Regions from separate parts of the Homo sapiens genome. Here region 1 is linked to region 2. The links come from fine-mapping of genetic effects on gene expression. Tissue or cell type: tibial nerve. Region 2 holds a variant in brackets; the other region holds the start of a gene. All regions are shown on one strand. Distances are between the middles of the regions.

Region 1 (9,695 bases), 40 kb before region 2:
TAATTAGCAATATTATTTACAAACTTTAGGTGTGCCAGTGTTCAGCGTACCTCATGAATGACCCACTCTTATGCTCCTCAGGCTGAGGCAGAGTGACATCATGGTTGAGACCACGAACCTGGGTGTCAGGCAGACCTAAGCCCAAATCTAGTACTTATGTGACCTTTGGCAGGTCTCTTAACTGCATATGCCCCAGTTTCCTTCTCTGTAAAATGAGATAAAAGTAATTCCTGCTTTGTTGAGTCATTGAGAATATCAAACATGGAAAAATCATGAAACACTTGGCACAGGCGAGGTATGGTGGCTTGCGCCTGTAATCTCAACACTTTGGGAAGCCAAAGCAGGAGGACTGTTGGAGGTCAGGAGTTTTAAACCAGCCTGGGCAACAAAGTGAGACCCTGTCTCTAAAAAAAAAATCAAAGAATTAGCCAGGCCTGGTAGCATGCGCCTGTGGTTCCAGCTACATGGGAGGCTGAGGCAAGAAGATCACTTGAGCTCAAGAGGTGAAGGCTGAAGTGAGCCCTGTTCTCACCACTGCACTCCAGCCTCAGAGACAGAGGGAGGCCCTGTCTCAGAAACAAAACCAAACAAAAAAAGACACTTATCACAATGTTTGAGATATAGTAGGCCCTCAATGAATGACAGCCGTTCTTCAAGAACAGTACTACATCTACAGTCAGAAGCTGCAGAGGCTGTTTCGTACGTTTACTGATCTATTTCATTGATATATGCTCACTGATATATTTTTGCAGAAGCTATTTTGTATATTCACAGATCTATTTCACTGATATATGCCCACTGATATATTTTTGCGGAAGCTATTTTGTATGTTCACTGATATATTTGTTTTGCCCACTTTTCCCATCTTCTTGCTAACTCATTGCTGTTGTTAAGTGGGGGAAAACAATTTCTTCCCTTGCAACATCCAAGGGTTGTTTTGAGCTTTACAAAGGACACATATGCATGGGGACACTTGGAAAATCATGGAGTCCAGCACAACTCAAAGCAGGGATTGAGCACCAGACAATAACAGGAAGCTGCAGCATCGTGAGATCTTTCTGGCAGCTGGAGGAGGCCTTTGCCAAATATTCCCAAGCACCCTGCCAGGAGCTGCTCCTGAACACTCTGGGGCTTCGTAGCACAGGAACATGCATGGCTGCAGGAGGGCGCACTTCCTCCAAGCACCTGTCCTAAACAGGATGCTCTGAACACACAGTGGCTTTCTGGGAATCCCACGTCCTGTGCAGCATCTATAGTTCTGGGCCTCTATTGTTTCACAGCATGGAAGGCAAACAATAGAAATTATTTTTAACAATAATAAACAATTTTTTCTTATTTTATTATTTTAATTCAGCCTCCATAGAGACTGTCAAAAATGACTAATGCTGACTATATTGCAATTCTATTATTATTACTGAAATTAACATTTAGTGGATGCTTTTGTGTGCCACTATACCAAACACTTTGATATGCACGTTCTCATTCTTTAAATTTATTTTTATCTTTTTTTACAATTTTTAAAATTGAGATAGGGTCTTGCAAGTTTGCCCAGGCTGGTCTTGAACTCCTAGGCCCAAGTGATCCTCCTGCCTCAGCCTCTCAAGTAGCTGGTACTATAGGCCCACACCACCATGCCCAGCCAGGTTCTCATTTAGTTCTCATAATCAATACTGCCCTTAGACACACGCAAGCAGGGCCCCTGCCCTAACCCCATTCCTTCCTCAAAAATGTCTAAGTGCGCTCTGGTACCTGGGATCGCTGGGGCCAGCAGTGCTGTCTGGATGGGGAATCTGAGCCTCCTCTTCACAGATCTCTCTAGTGATCCTCTGCATCTCTCCCATACTGTGCAAGGGGTTGGCCAGATGCCCCAAGGAGCCCCAGGAGTCATGCCAATGGGTTTCTTGGGGCCCTGGAGCTGGCTCCATTCTAGGGGACAAGCCTAGCAAGCAATCACTTCCTCAGGCTGGTGTGGCATTTCTTTCCCAAGACTGAAACAGATTGAGCTGTTGACACACTGCTTTGGGTGACTCAAATTGTTTATATAGACAGGAGCCCTACAAAAAAAATCTGCCCAGGGCCCCATCTACTCTAGGGATAGGCCTGCTCAAAGCAATCCTATAAGGTATGCATTCCCTGCCTACCTTAGGGACAGAGAAACGCACTTGGAATCACTAACTTCCCAAAGTAACACATTTAGTGAGTAGAAGAGCTGGGAGTCAAATTCTGGAATGTCCAACCTCAAAGCCACACTTAACTAATCTCCCAGATTTCCTTATCTGCCTCCACTAAGATATGGATATCCCAATGATGATTACCTTTCCTGTATCCAGAACTCTCTCGGATACTGTTAATTCTCTTGTTCCCAAGTGAGGGAATCTGCTGATAAGTCATTATCCAGCATGCTTTCATTAAACTACAGCTTACCTGGCTTCCCCTTGCCTTCCTGCCTTCTCCTCCCAACAGATCTTATCTCTTTCAAGAGCAACAGTGGCTCATTCCAAAAATATCTGATTTGAGTCTGTTTGAGTAGAAACATTCCATAGAAGCATCGAAGTCATTCAGAATAAAGTGTTAGCTCCAGCAGAAATCTACATGTTTCATTTTTATTCCTATTTGTGGAATAAAACATTTTTTCCTCAATAAAGGGATTCTAGGTATCCCCTAGTATGTGGATCTGATTTTTGAGGGAGGTGTCATTTGCTACAATAGGCATACTCAGCTGGTTCTGAACAAAGTCTTCTTAGCAGAGCTTGTAAGGGGACTGGGCAGAAGGCATGGCTTCTTCATCCCCGCTCCCTGCTCCCCTAAAAAGGAATGTGCCTGGAATCATGAAGAGAAGACTGTTAAGAGTAAGAGACAAGGAGCTGTTACCATCAGCAGCTGTCGAAGTCGGTATCCTGTCTTGCCTGAGCACTGATCTGCTTGTCAGCCCTCTCTGTCCCAGCCAAAGCTCTGTATAGGCACAGTGAGATACCGCTTCACACCCACTAGGATGGCTAGAATAAAAAAGTCAGATAAGGCCGGGCGCGGTGGCTCATGCCTATAATCCCACCACTTTGGGAGGTGGAGGCAGGCAGGTCACCTGAGGTCAGGAGTTCCAGACCAGCCTGGCCAACATGGTGAAACCCCATCTCTACTAAAAATACAAAATTAGCCAGGTGTGGTGGCACATGCCGGTAATCCAAACTACTTGGGAGGCTGAGGCAGGAGAATCATTTGAACTCAGGAGGCAGAGGTTGCAGTGAGCCGAGATCACGCCATTACACTCTAGCCTGGGCAACAAAGCAAAACTCCGTCTCAAAAAAAAAAAAAAAAAAAAAAAGGCAGATAATAGCAAGTGTTAGCAAGGATGTGGAGAAACTGGGACCTTAATATGCTGCTGGTGGGAATGTAAAATGGAGTAACTGCTTTGTGAAATAATCTAGAAGTCCTTCAGAAGGTTAGACATAGTTATTATATGACCCAGAAATTCCACACCTAGGTATACACCCAAGAGCCCTGAACATATCATATGTCCACATAAAAACCTGTATATGATGATCCTTTTGATGTGTTCACACACGCGTGTGTGAGGTGAGCCACCCTCGAACCTTGTTATGACATTGGCACATTACCCATCTGACACGAAAAAAGAAAAAAAAACCTTGTATATGGATATGCATAGAGGCATTATTCATAAAATCCAAAAGTTGGAAACATCCCAAATGTCCATCAGCTGGTGTAAGCAGAAACAAATTGTGGAATATCTATACGGTGAAATAGTATTTGGCCATAACAAGGAATAAAGTACTGACACGTGCTACAACATGGGTAAACCCTGAAAACATGCTAAGTGAAAGAAGCCATAAACGAAAGACCACAGATTATAAATTCCATTCACATGAAATATCCAGAATAGGGAAATCTAAGAGGCAGAAAGTAGATTTTGATTTCTTAAGGCTGAGAGATGGGGATGAAGAGGTTGGGGTGGGGAGGCGATAGCTAAAGGGTACAGGGTTTCTTTTTGAGGCAATGAAAATATATATGTAACATATCAGTTGCATACTAAAACTCGCTGAACTATAGACTTTAAATGGATGAATTTTACAGCATATGAATTATAACTCAATAAAGCTGTTGAAAGCTGATTGCAACAAAACAGAACATCTTAACTCCAGTACTTCAGCTAAACTGAATCCAATTCAACTCTGGCTGTCCAAGAATGACGAGGAATGCGTTATGCTTCCTGGCTTATTTGACTTAACTTCATACATTCGTAGGGACCATGGTTAATTGCCTTCTGCTTCCTGTACCAATTCTAGGTCTGACTTTGACAAGGTGTGAGCAGTTGGGTAGGTATCATCTTCATTAACAAAGGCACCATGATAACTTCAAAGTCTGAAAACTCCCAAGTGCAATAACTCTATCCTCAGAGTGGGCCTTCTCCACCTCTTTCCCAGGCAGAGGGATGAGTGACACGTTTTAATGAGCTTCACTGAAAAGAAGCCTCAACAAGTTCTCTCAATATTAAAACACTTTCTTTTTATTTTATTTCTTTTTTAGAACATTTCACAAGACGAGCCCTCCCTACACAGTGACACAATTTGGACCTCAACTTTACTTATCTTTTGCTAGCCTCCATCTCCCCCCTTGAATATTTCCTTTCCATTCATCCTTTGTCATATGAAATAATAACATCTACAGATAGAGATCTTTCTTTTCCATCATACTTCCTATTACTGACAATTATTCATACCAAGTTTGGAAAGAGATACATTTGTTACTGAAGATCATAAAATCCTGGACAAAAATATCCTTGGGATTTAGCTCCGTAGCTACACTTATGTTACATTCTCCATCTCTCCCACCCTCACCCCCATTAATTATATATTAAGGATAGTGTTTCCTTTGAAGAACACATTACAGAAGAATGATCTGGATAGTACTCTCTTAATTACGCCAATCACAAAACACAAAACCATGTCCAGAGAGGGTTATTTTACTTACCAAAAGGATCAACGCTGTTACATACACGCCCACGTGGGCAGTAGTCCTTGGGACAGAGATACAGCAAATGAGTGATAGTGGCACGCCTATGAGCGGTGAAGGAGGTCCCAGAGACCCTCCGGTCCTCAACAATCAGTCTCTTTCTGTTCGAGCCCCTGGCACTGGTTCTCTCAGATGAGGTGACTTTGCTTTTCTCAGAGCTGCACAATTTCCCCAGACACTTTAGACCAAGGAAGGCAGGCATCTTGGCATGGATTTCCAAGCAATGAGAAATGGGGAGTGGGGACCCAAGGAGCGGTGCTGCCCCACAATTCTCTCTGTTCCCCTGGCTCCTTACTGTCTCCTTTTCTCACTGCCCAGCAAAGAAGATTAAGGGAGATGTATTTAAGTGATTACCCTCAAGAGCTTAGGGCACCATATTCTCAGTCAGATGACTAGGTATAAAAACAGCCACTACCAGGAACTCGAGACTTTCAGTCTCAGACATGAATGCATATTTGAAAATCAGATTAATATCCAGAATAAGAGAAAGAATATAACTGCAATATCTAAAAGAATTCTCCTGCAAATACTCCTAGAATATTCAGTATCATCTGGTAAGAGTACTGAGAATAGGGCTAGGGATATATACACATATTTTATATAATCTAAAAATGTCTATCAGAAAAATCCCAGGGTAATAATTCCAAGTTTTCCAGTATTTCAGATCTCACAGGTGGAGGTGGGGAAGGCTCGATAAAGATCCTCAGCTTCAATTCGTGACAAATCCAGCTCTCAGCCATAGTAAACGATCATTTCCTTTCCATTTTCTAGAAGGGGACCCCTCCCCTCAGTACCAGGAAAATCCTTCTGCCTCATTCCATTAAGCCAATGTTTACTGTCGTAATGTTTCATGGGTTTTCTGTGATGGCAGAATCATATGATGGAGACAGAATTAACATGTAGGTAGCTTCAGCTTTACACAAAGTTACAAGCTAGAAGGACCTTCATGGAATTAGTGTATTGATATAAAAAGGACAACCCCAGTAATTATCATTTACTCTTTAACATCCACACAGTAAGATGCAGTACAAAATGTGACCGTCTACAACCATACAAAAGTCCCAAGTCAAAATGAATAAACTCACACTCCTTCTCCTGTCATTGGGCTATTATGTTCTAATATAAATTCCTTTTCATTAAAACCCTAGAATAGAATTATAGAGCTGACAAGGCCATCAAAGGTAATCTAGTCCAGTAGTTCCCAAATATTGCTGTGCATAAGAACCATCTGCAGGTGCGGTTGCTCACGTCTGTAATCCTAGCACTTTGGGAGGCTGAGGTGGGAGGATTGCTTGAGGCCACTTCGAGACCAGCCCTGGCAACATAGCAAGACTCTGTCTCTACAGAAAAAAAAAAAAAAATTAAAACATTGGCCAAGTGTGGTGTCATGCATCTGTAGTCCCAGCTACTCGGGAGGCTGAGGCAGGAGGATTGGTTGAGTCCAGGAGTTTGAGGTTACAGTGAGCTATGATTGTGCCACTGTACTCCTAGGTGACCGGGCAAGACTCTGTCTCAAAACAAAAAATCTGTAGAACTTTTGAAAAATACAAAATATATATATACGGGATTCTTGCACGTAAAGGTCAGGAACTTACATTTCTTTTCTTTTTTTATACTTTAAGTTCTAGGATACATGTGCACAATGTGCAGGTACATATGCATACATGTGCCATGTTGGTGTGCTGCACCCATTAACTCATCATTTACATTTCTAAACATTCTCCCAGACTAGTGCCAGCACTCAGGAAGCACTGATCTACGCCAGCCTTTAAGATGAGGAAGGTGAGTCTCAGAGAAGATGTGACTTTCTCAGGACAATGCAGAGAGCCTAGGGTGGAGCCGGGTCTTCTGCCTCCCATGCTGACTCTTCCTATCCAATAGTCGGGTCCTTCCACAAAGGCCCCAGGCAGATGAAGCAGAGAAAGGAAATTCTTGCTTCTTTTGTTACAAGTTCCTAATCTATTGGCAACACAATTCAAGAACCTGAGAATTCCAATTTGCTAGAATTATTCTATGCCAATGTGAAGCACGGTGGGAATGGAAGAAACAGACGCTGTCTAGAGGCACTCAGACTGAGGTGGACTTGGGGAAAGTGGGAACATGGGACTTCTACCACTACTGAAGTCACACCTCAAAATTTCTGCTCCAAAATTCTGGGAATTAAGCCCAACACCAACCTCCAAAGTCTTCCTCTAAAAACAGTTTACAAAGCAGGTCAAACAATCTGTATGTGTTCTTTTCCCTGTTTGCCTATTTTGAGGAACCTTCAGATATACAATGTAAGATGTTCTATCAATGTTTCTCAAAATGAGGGTAAGGGATAAAAGACTAAACATTAGGTGCAGTGTACACTGCTAGGGTGATGGGTGCACCAAAATCTCAGAAAGCACCACTACAGAACTTACCCATGTCATCAAACATCACCTGATCCCTCCAAAACTATTGAAATTTAAAAAAAGAAAAGAAAAGAAATACAACTGGAAAAAAAAAAAGTGGCATTCATCCATCAAAAAAAAAACCGTATTTCCCAAAATGTGATTTCTGGGCCAATTTGTTTAAGATGGAGATCCCCGAGGGCCACCTCAGCCCTACCAGGTTCTTCTAGAGTGTTTTGTAATAAACATCGTAGTGTGGGAACCCCTGCCTTTCATTGTTAATTCTTTCTTGCTGGGTTTCCTGGAGCTCTGCTCTTTGCAAACTGAGAACCTGAGCAGCTACTTGCTTATATGTGCTTACATGGTCTTTTTGTGAAATATAGATGTGTTTATATAGAGGAACATGATACAGCCACTTTGAAGGCAGGCTCTGGAACACAGTAACAATGCACAAACACAGACTTTGGACAGAAAAGAGACTATTTCCTTCAAACCCAGCATCTTCCTGACCTGGAAAAAAGGTAACTCTTCCATAACAAAGCTGTTCGGCTTTCTTGGTCCCTAAACTCATCAAGCATTGCCCACAAAAACTATTTCCACTGCATTAACTCTACCTCAGTGCTTAGCCATTGTAGCTGCAGAGCATGCACAGAACACTCCTAAATTTTTTTTTTTACAAGTTTACAGATCCATATATTTAGTTCAAGATGCAACTGTCTTCTAAGAGACTGCGAAAAGGAAAAGAAAATAAATTCTTATTCAATAACGGAATTATACGTAAGAATTTTGATACTTTTTTAGGTCAAGATGCAAAGCAAACTACATATGGATCATGAAGACGGCTAATGAGAAAAACAAATGGTTGCTTGCTTTTAAAGACAACCGAACTACATATAAATGTGAGGGGGCTGACTCCATTCTCAGGCAGTGGAGAGGGATGAGAGTTCAGATGCTGGCAGCAGTGACTGCAGACACCTGTGAACTAAGTTCCACTCCCCAAGTGCTCAGAGCTTTTCACTTACCCTCCTCCACATGGCTCCAGTTAAATACCTAGCAGAGGCCAAGCCTCCAGTCTTAAAAATAGACTTGCAGTGGTATCTGCCTGACAGCAACCTCTTCACCCAGGAAAGCACAGTTGGGGAAGACCCTAAAGAAGCACCAGTGGATTCAGGTCTTTCACTGCTGCCTTCTGCCACAGCCCACATAAAACTACAGTCACAGCAATCACAAAGGAGTGCAGTGGGTTTTGTGACCGTTTCTATGGTTCTATGATATGATATCACAATGCACCACATTACAAAGCTAATGATAATTACAAATGTTGAACTTCTGCCCAAGATTTTGCTGGCCTGTGTATCTTATCAGATAGGAAATTCCTAATCTTTCTAGAAGCAGTTCCACTGTACCTACTCAAGCTCTTCTATGATAGACTATGAAAATGAACCATCAGTGGGAAAATTCACCAAGGGGCACTGAGGACACCCAGCCTTTGCATGCTGTAGGAGCTCAATAAACACCTGATGTGATGAGCCCCAGCCCAAAGCCAGGTGTTTTGGGGCTACACAGTGCTCGGCGAACAGATGCCTCAATTACTGCTCTTTCTTCATCAGTCACAGTGATTCTCCACAAATGAACATGGACTTTATTCTATATAGTGATTTAAGTCTTTTTTCTCAGACAAGTATCCCCTCCCTGCTTAAATCATCTGCTAGGATCTACTTGCTTCTCACTAAAGAATAAAATTTTCTCAGAGAGCAAATTGCCACCTTACGATGCCAATATTTCTGGAATTTAGTTTGCTAAGGAAATGTTCTGCAGTTAGCCTGTGGCCTCATCAGTGATAATGGGGTTACTTTTCATTTTTGTTGTTGTTTTTTAATCAAAATGAAAGAACAAAAAGAGCTCAGCATGCCTTCCAAAAACACCTGCAGTTGCTCACAAGTCAGGATGATCTTTGCTGCTAAACAGAACAGATTCAGTGGGAAGGCTGTGAAAAAGGGGTGCAATTGGACTTCCAGACAGTGACGACTCGGCCCATTTGAGGTTCTCCTGCTCAGCAGCGGCTATCCCTGCTCCCTGCTCCCCGTAAGTCCTAAAGTTCAGTCCTTCTGCATGGTCAGCCCTGGGCATCTTCTCTGCAAAGCCCAATGTTTAAAGGGTCTTACCCATCCCTCCAAAGCAGGCTGTGATTTTCTGAGCATACTGGCATATGCTCCGGTCTGGGCAGGTCTCCTCTGAAAGGCCTGCTTCCTCCATCCCTCTGCATGCAGCTGCTTCTCTTCCCGTAATGCC
Region 2 (9,695 bases):
GATTGCAGTGAGCTGAGGTGGTGCCACTGCATTCCTGCCTGGGCAACAGAGCAAGACTCCATCTCACACACACACAAAAAAAATGCATTTAAACCTTGCAAAATAAATAAGTCAACACCAAGGACACCTTGCTGAATCATTTTAGGGTTTATAATAACCAGCCACTGGAGTTAGAAACAAAACTGCCTTTAGCAAATACTCCTCCCTAACACTGGCTTTCTGAAACCCCATGTTTTATTCCTTTGAGTGCACAGGCACAGTGTGGAGGCTAAAGGGAGGCTTCCTATTATCTAGGCCAGCTGTTTTCTAGCTAACAGAAGAAGGAGGCTGTGTTGGGATCGGTGAGGGATGCAGCGCGGGGAAGGCAGAGAGTTGGTTCTGGGTCCGACTTCCACCAAAGAAAATTCAGCTCTTATGCTTTATTTTCTGGGCTTCCAGGTGAGCCTTCATCTGAAGAAAGGGTTCCATAGCTAAAAATAAACACACATGTTGAAAAATCCCCAACCTACCCAATCCTTTCATTTTAAAAAGGAGGAAAATGAAGGCCTGTGAGTGTAAGTGACTACAGCAAGTGAGAGAATGAGTAGCCAAGGCAGGAGTGGACCAGCCACAGGCTCTGAGCAACATGCTCTCATGCGTGCACTCTCTCCAGATCGCCAAGTACATTGCCCCTACAGGACGTGTCCCTGTCATCCATCATAGGGTTCAGGTCTATCCCCTGCAGCTCTTCCTCGCACAGCGCACAGCCATATAAGCGCAGGCTTGCAGGTAGGGTGTTGTTGCTGATATAATTTTAAGCGTTTTTTCTTTCTTTCTTTTTATTTCTTTTTTTTTTTCTTTCAGAAACAGGGTCTTGCTCTGTCACTCAGGCTGGAGTGCAGTTGCATGATCATAGCTCACTGTAACCTTGAACTCCCAGGCTCAAGTGATCCTCCCACCTCAGCCTCCCAAACAGCTAGGACACAGGCACATGCTACCATGCCTGGCTGATTTTAAAAAAACTTTTTTTTTTTTTTTTGTAGAGATTGGGTTATTGCTGTGTTGCTCAGGCTGGTCTCGAGCTCCTGGCCTCAAGCCATCCTCCCGCCTTGCCCTCCCAAAGTGCTGGGATTACAGGCATCAGCCACCATGCCCAGTCTATTTTAATCATTTTTAAAGTACTAGACACAGAGGCCACAGGCAGAATAGTAGCAAAAGCCCTGCCTATGTAAGATGAAAAATAAAAATATTCTGAAGTTTTCAGAAGTCAGTACTCCAGAAGTAAATCAATAGAAAATAATATTCGGTTGATAAAAATTGAATTTATACTCAAATTGTGAAAGAAGCAGGTGGAAAGGATGTGAACACACCCTACAGGATCTGTCTGCTGGCTGTGACCTTCATTCTTACAGCCTTCACTCATAAGGTAGCAAACCACAGCTGAGCTGTGTGGGTTCTGGCCCGGGTGCCACTCTGAGAAAACATCACGGACTTCCTAGACTCTGCAGTCACTTGGGGTTGCATTCTGGATGAATGCCACAGTTGCTGGCTCCTGGAAGGGAGGCTCTACATTTTCTAAAATGTGACAAAAACCTAAAGGGGCATAACAAAAACTGGTAAGGGGGGTGCACTATGCCAGCTATCCCTGGGGATTCTCATTTACAAAAGGGCTCCTTTAAATAAACTCTTAAAATAGTCCTGGTTTACCACTCACTAGTTGGGTGATTTAGCAAGTTATTTTATCTATACGTATCTCCATATTCTCACCTGTAAGATGGGGATAATTATGATACCTACCTCATGGGATGTTGTGAAAATTTAAGGAAACAGTTCCTGATTCCTGACAAATATTAGTCATTATTGTTATTATTCTTTAAACAAGAAAAAAAAAGACATTAAGTACTAAATAGAGAGGCCAGGGGCAGGAAAGTAGCAAGAGCTGGGGAATTTGACATGAAAAGTCAAAATGAAATGTTTCTGAAGCTTAATGTAAGTTGATAGACAATAATAATTGGTTGATAAAAAGTGGAACTTACAGATTGGGATCATAGCTAGCTCTACCATCTTCTCTGGGACCTCGCCGCTCAAAACCCGGACATTGAGCCGCAGCAGCGCCCTCACCTGGGAACTTCTTAGAAATGCAGAATGTCAGCACCCAACCCGGACTCTCCAGGTACTGAATCAGAATTCGCATTTCAACAAGATTTCCGGGGAATTTATGTGCATGTTACAGTTAGAGGAAGCCTGCTTGATGGTATGTACTGAGAGTTTAGCATGTAGGTCAAAGGAACAAGACCTCATTCTCTAGTTACATCTCCATACATTATCCTAAATCTTACACTGCTTTCCATTAGCTAAATGGTCAACTAACCATCTGTTAAGCAGATGCCCCTTTAAGGGACAGCATAATACTTAAGTATCTAAAGCAACTAACTCACCTTTTGTTAGTAATTTCAATAATTTTAAAATATCATCATCAAGTGCTAACATTTATAGAGCCCTTAAAACATGCAGGAATCAACATAAGGTGCTCTCCATATGTTCTCATTTAATACTCACACCCCCCACTGGAGTAACCATTACTATCCCCATTTTATAGAGGAGAGAACTGAGGCTCAGAGAGGCTACATCATTTTCTCAAGACCAAATTAAATGGGGGAAAGAAGGCCTTTTTGAAATCCATTCTCTTTCTACAAATTCAAACCCCACTCCCACAACATCAAAATAATGTATCTGTGCACTGGGGAGCAGCAATAATTATCCCCCTTTTCAGATAAGGAAAACTGAGACACAGAGAGCCAATGAATTATACAAAGTCACTGACCTGAAACTTAGGTTAGAACTGGGTCCATTACAATTCAACAACTTTTTCAAATTAAAGAATTCTGCTGCTAGAAATGGCAATGATAATGCAATGGCATTGGAGACAATGCCATGGCATTTTATTTCTGTTGGAAATAAAACACATCCAACAGAAAGAAGGATTTCCATGTATGAAGCTTTGTACAACCAAACCAAGGCACCTCAAATTTTGATCTCTGATCGTAAGAGATTATGAGGATGTCAGTTTCTTTGGGAAAACAGAGTTTCCAGACTCTTATTGCCATCGCCCCATCAATGTGGCAACTGATGCTTATCCACACATCTCAGCTAGCATCCTACATGACATTACTTCTGCATGCCTGTGAAATTCTCCTAACTACAGCCTCCCTGATTTCCTCACTAGGTCTTTACCCAAGTTTGATATCCAAATAGTTTAGAACTTGGCAAGATGAGTCAAAAATCTTTCCTTGATAGCCCCAGTGTCTATGGAAAATCAGAGACACAGGTTTTAGGATCCAGTGATGAGGGCTCCTTGCCCAGGCTCCACCCAGGGAATGCCTCCCTCCTCCATCCCTGGAGAGGGCAGCAGGGAACAAAGCAGGATTTCTTGGCTAAAAATGCTATATTAGTTGCTAAGATGACAACAACAAAATACCACAGGCTATAGAAGTCCAAGACCAAAATGATGGCAGGTTTTGTTTCTTCTAAGCCCTCTCTTCTTGCTTGCAGATGACAGCCCTCTTGCTGTGACCTCACATGGATGAGCTTCATTGCACAGATGTGTCTGGTCTCTCTGTCTCTGTGCCCAGATTTCCTCTTCTTATAAGGACACCATTTGATATGGTTTGGCTGTGTTCCCACCCAAATCTCATCTTGAATTGTAGCTCCCATAATTCTCATGTGTTGTGGGAGGGACACAGTGGGAAATAATTGAATCATGGGGCAGTTTCCCCCATACTGTTCTCATGGTAGTGAATAAGTCTCATGGGATCTGATGGTTTTATAAGGGGTTTCTCCTTTTGCTTGGCTCTCATTCTCTCTTGCCTGCCACCATGTAAGACATGCCTTTCACCTTCTGCCATGATTGTGAGGCCTCCCCAGTCACATGGAACTGTGAGTCCATTAAACCTCTTTTCCTTTATAAATTACCCAGTCTCGGGTATGTCTTTATCAGCAGTGTGAAAATGAACTAATATACCATTCATACTGGATTAGGCTATTTTAACTACATTACCTCTTTATAGAGCCTGTCTCCAAATATAGGCACATCCTGAGATACTGGGAGTTAGGGCTGCAACATAGAAATTTGGAGGAGACATAATTCAACTCATAACAGATGCTGAATGGATCACTAAGTCCTAGGGCTATGCTGAGGCCTTCTGGTCCATTCTGGGTTCAATAAGAACTAGAATTCACAGTAATCTGAATCTCTCGGCCTCATGACTCAGGGCACTCTGGGGGAGGAAGGAAGAGAACAAAATTCCAGGTCAGACACAAAACACGCCCCTTCCCTTCTCATTTCTGCTCCATGGGATCAGAGAAAAACAATTCTCAGCCTCACTGTCCACCAACCCAACCCACCTTCCTTCCCACACTCCGCTCATCACAGCTTAAGTAAGGCCACTCTGGTTTTTTGAGAATTTAAGTGGCACTCATAAAACAGTCTGAGTCAGAGACACAACCAGTTACTCAAAAGTACAAACTAAAGAACTCAGATCTGGCAGCCTGCAAGGCTTCTCCTGCCC[T/C]GGGGCAAGTGGTGATCAGCCCTCAGGAGCTGGCACGCGGTTTTCGAAGCAGCTGATCTGCCCAGCAGTAGGGGCTGGGGACCAGAGCCAGCCTCCGGGCCAGCCCACTCAGCCCGGGGCAGTGGCACCGTAAATGCCAGCGAGTAGGAGGGAGGAAAACCTGCACAGCGTGAACCTGTCAGGAGGTGCTCACTTCACACAGGGTGTGTGCCAATGGCTTCTAAAAACAAATTAGGTATTTGGGGTTTATAGGTATCCAAATCATGACACAATAGAAACAGAACAAGAGTGATATTTGCTGTTAAAAAGAAAACCTATGCCCATCAATAAATCCATTAACTTAGATAGCCCTAATTTTCAATTTTAGTAATCCAGCTATTCCTCATATCATCAAGTTTTAAGCTTGGTTCTCAAAACCTTCTCATATTAATATAAAATTATATCATCTTCCTTAGGGTTTTAAAAGATCATTTTGCCATTTCATTTGGTATGTGATAAATAAGTGCTTTAAAGTAATGATTTTAAATCAATATATTATTGAATATACTGAAGATTACATTTTAGAGATCTCTTGTGGTTGCAAACTAATACAACTATAGAGGAAAATTACACCAGCAAAAAGACAGGAGGAAACATTAATCCCCCACATAGAAATCTCTGTATTAATCCCCCTATTAGTTAATTAACATATACCAAAAAAAAGAATCACTAAGACATTTAAGGAAAACAAAAGCACAAAATTGGACCAAGATGAATACACAAACACATGATTCTAGAGAAAATAGATAATTTAAGCAACAGAAGAAAAGAACTAAATAAAAATTCAAATTGATATCCTCTAAGGCATTTGAGAACAAACTGTATCCATGAAGCTAATCTGGGAAAAAATTAAAAGAGCAATCACAGAAAAAGAGAGTTTACAGAAATAAAAAAATAACAATTATGAAAATAAAAAGAAATGCAACAGACAGGCTAGAAAACAAAATGTCAAGAAACCCTCCCATAAAGTAGAGCAAAATAAAGGAGATTAAAAATGTAAAAAAAAAAAAAAAGAATTAAGAGATATGGAAGAGGTCCAATATCTATTGAATAGGAGTTCCAAAAAGAGAGGACAAAGAAAGTAAAGGAGAGAAACTGAAAAAAACAGAATTCTCCAGTCCTGAAGGAAGACACAAGTTTCAGAATGAAAGAACAAACTAAGTGCTGGACAGGATGAAGAAAAATGACAAAATAGCTAGACATACACTGGTGTAATTTTAGAACTCTGAACATACAGAGAACACCCTAAAAGCTATCAGATACCAGTTCAGGTTACCAAGAAGGGAAAAGGACTCAGACTACCATGAGGCTTGGCAGTCACTGTGAAGTCAGAAGAAAACAATTCAGCATGTGGAGAAAATAAGAAATTTTCAGACAGGGAAGGATTCCACTTACCTCTTATGCACCCTTACTGAAAAAAATTACTTGAAGACTGACTCACACAGGAGAAAAAACTAATTCCCAAAAAGAAAACTGCAGATTCCAAGAAAATGTGGAATTCATTTAGAAATAAAATGGGATTAGGGGGAATCCCACAGTGACAGCTATATAACAGATCTAGAAGCCAGTGAGTCCAAATTAGAAGATAGAGTCTCCAAGAAAACATCTTCAAGAAAGTAGATTTCATTCAACAAGTTATGATTCAGAGCCTGGACGATCTTAGTAATGCTATTAATAAATTCATTTTGCTTAGCAAAAAAAAAAAAAAAAGAATTGGAATTAAAAGCTTTATGTAAATTAAAAATCTGTATAAAAAACCATAATCTAAATATGAAGCAAACTAAAGAGTCATAAAATTTTGAGAAAAAAAAAGGAGGTTGTTGGAAAAGGGCCCTTGGATGATGCTTTAATAATGCTTAAACATGTACTTTGAGCAAGACAGATTTAATGCTCAGAATAATTCCTTCTCTAAGGGTCCAGTCACAGTGTCTGCTTCTGCAGTGAAGAATATTTGCATAATTTTAATGTTACAGATAATTTATATTGGTTTTCAGCTCTAAAAATCAACTTATAATAAAAAAGAAAGCATAAAAGTTAGATTTAAAATATATAAACCTTGACAATGTAAAAGTAAGGTGTCTTCTGACAGCAGTCAGAAGACAGAAAGTGTGGGTAGGAGAAGAGAAGTGAGGTGGAAGGGTGATAATGTCCTCATTCTACCTAATAGGGGTAAGAAGGTATTATGTAGAGTCAGATAAAAAATAGCAGTATATTATTTAGAGTTATAAAATGGCTCTATATCAATGGTAGATTTAAAACTAATAAAACTCTGGAAGTGAACATTAAAACCAATTGAGAGACATTGTTGAAATAAATATAAATCCAAACATATTATTTAGAATTATAGTATTACCATCCAGAAGTAAAAAGTAAACTTTTATAAACAGTTATGTCTGCTATAAAAGGGCAGCCCAAAGGATCCTTGTGGTGATGAAACTGTTGTATATCTTGACTGAATTGGTGTCAATATACTGGTTGTGATATTATACCACAGTATTGCAAGATGTTGCCCCAATCCATGAGAGAATTAAGCAAAAAGTTATTTTAATGATTCTATTCTTTGTTTTTTTTCAGATGGGGTCTCACTATGTTGTCCAAGCTGGTCTTTGAACTCCTGGACTCAAGCAATCCTCCCACCTCAGCCTCCCAAGTTGCTGGGATTATAGGCACAAGTCACCACATCCAACCTGTGACTCTACTCTTGATTCTACCAAAGAAGTCTAACAAGCTAATACATTTCCAGATGCATAAGCAATAAGTTAATTCATTACATATGAAGGATGCATTCGAGCATTATGGATTACTTCTCTTGTAAAACCTCACTGAGAGAGAATGATCTACATAGAACACTACAAATAATCACTGAGGTAAATTAAAGAAAACCTAAATTAGTAAAGATATATATCATGTCTATGGATTATAAGGTTCAATATATAAGATCCTTATTTCTCTGAAATTAATTCATGAATTCAATGTAACCCTAATAATATTCTCAGCAGGTGTTTTAGATAAAAGTTGACAAACTGGTTTTAAAATAGACATGAAAATGTAAAGGGCCTAGGATTGCCAAAAACAATTAAAACACACACACACACACACACACACACATACACTCAAAGATGGAGAACTTACTCTACATGGCATAATTAAGATGATGTAGTATTGCCATAATGAAAGACAAATTAATCATTGAAACAGAATAGGAATTCCAGAAACAGATCTACACTTATAAATGATTGACTGGTTCTTTGCAAAGGCCCCAGTGCAATTCAATGAGGAAGGGAATCTTTTCAACAAATGAGGCTGGAACAATTATATATCCCTGTGAAAAAAAAAAATTAACCTCAACCCCTACCTCACACCATATACAAAAATTATTTTGAGAGGAATCATAGATGTAAACTTAAAATCTAAATCTCTAATAGTGTCATAAAAATATAGAATACCTTTGATATCCTGGGATTAGGCAAAAACTCCTTGGATAGGATAATAAAATCACAAAAATGTATAAAAATTGATACATTAAACTTCACCAAAATTAAACACTCCATTCATCAAAAGACACTATTAAGAAAATAAACAGGCAAACCTCAGGCTGGGAGAAAAGTATGTGCAAAACATAAAGCAGACATATAACCTGTATTTAGAATACATTTTAAAAAAAACTCCTACAACTCAATAAGAAAAATAATGCAGGTTAAAAACAGAGGGGTAGAGAGACTTGAATAGATACTTCACAAGGTTAGATATGCAAATGACCATTATCCACATTAAAAAGTTCTCAAATAATTAGCCATGAGGTAAATGCAAAGTAAAAATCACAACAAGATACCACTATGCCAAATTAAAATACCAAATATTGGTGAGGATGTGAGACAATTGTAACTCTAATACATTTCTAGTGAGAATATAAAATGGTTACAACAGTTTTTGAAAAATGTTTGACAATTTTTCTTATTATAAATATACACCTACCCTCCGACCTAGCAATTCCACATCTAGATCTTTTACCAAGAGAAATGAAAACATAAATCCACAAAAAAGACTTTTCCAAGAATGTTCACAGCAGCTTTATTCATATTAGTAAATAGCTATAAACAACAAGAATGTCCATCAATAGAATGGATAATCAAATTGTGATATACCTATATAATGGAATATTACTCAGCAATAAAAAGGAATGAACTACTCCCATACACAACAAAATGGAGGCATCACACAGACCTTACACTGAGTGGAAAAAGCCTTACACAAAACAGTGCGTAGTATATGAGTCAATTTATGTGAAGTTCTAGAAAAGGCTAATCTAATTAGGACCTTGATTGTCTGGGAGTGAGAGGATTCACTGACAAAGAACACAAGAGAATTTCTGGAGATATGAAAATATTCAATATTGTGATAGAGGTCTATGGGTGACATAGGTGTATCTATCTGTAAAACTTCTATAGCCAAGATTCTTACATTTCAATGTATGTCAATTATGCCTTAAAAACAACTGTTAAAAATAAGAGAGGATGTAGAAATTTAGAAAAAATAAGAATGGCAGAGTGTTGAAGCTGGGCGATGGGTACTTGAGGTTCATTATACTATTTTTTTATTGTTTATCATAGAAATATTCAAACATATGCAAAGTAAAAAATGTACACTGAATTTTAACTATGCATTACAGCAACATGACAAGATGTTTAGAATTCTAATAGTTTGGGCTTAAAAAATTCAGCTGGTTGATTTTCATTACTTTAAGTCTTTATGAATAGTAAGCTAAAACATAAGATTTCAGTTGTCTATTTGCAAATATTTTCTCTGTAAATACCACATTGCAAGTGAAAGCCTATATTGCTAATAACGAAAAAGACAATCATTAATACATGATCTTTAAAAAATGTTGGCTTTTGAAATACTACAGATATTCTAATGAGTTACAGAATTTTAATGAGATGAATGAAACATACAAATCTGGAGAAGATCAACTTGAGAATAAGAATTTGCAGAATTAAAATAATTTCAACGATAAAAGTGATTCATTTGTATTTTAACATCAGTGTTTTTTTGTTTCTTGTCATTAATCACTGGTCTATCATGATTATACACTGAACAATATATAAGTAA

Which allele goes with the higher level. Positions count from the first base shown, and alleles are read on the strand shown. Sizes are in standard deviations (SD) of each study's normalised expression.
For the expression in tibial nerve of the gene that starts at base 5,305 in region 1, allele C in region 2 goes with a higher level than allele T (moderate effect, 0.42 SD a copy in GTEx).

Evidence for each region. PIP is the estimated chance that this variant, and not a neighbour inherited with it, causes the effect.
Region 1: ABLIM1 starts here. The variant in region 2 is fine-mapped to the expression of ABLIM1 in tibial nerve (GTEx, PIP 0.97).

The regions. Positions count from the first base shown.
Region 1 is chr10:114,652,971-114,662,665 of GRCh38, forward strand. It overlaps ABLIM1 (actin binding LIM protein 1), which reads right to left and starts at 5,305. Exons shown (of 23, transcript NM_002313.7): 1 at 4,987-5,305. The coding sequence starts at 5,230. LOC124902588 (small nucleolar RNA U13) reads left to right here and starts at 3,525; the gene lies at 3,525-3,624.
Region 2 is chr10:114,692,825-114,702,519 of GRCh38, forward strand. It overlaps a transcript of ABLIM1 not described here. Among named protein-coding and RNA genes, the nearest start is that of ABLIM1, 39 kb to the left of the region's middle. The variant T/C (reference allele first, on the strand shown) is at 4,548.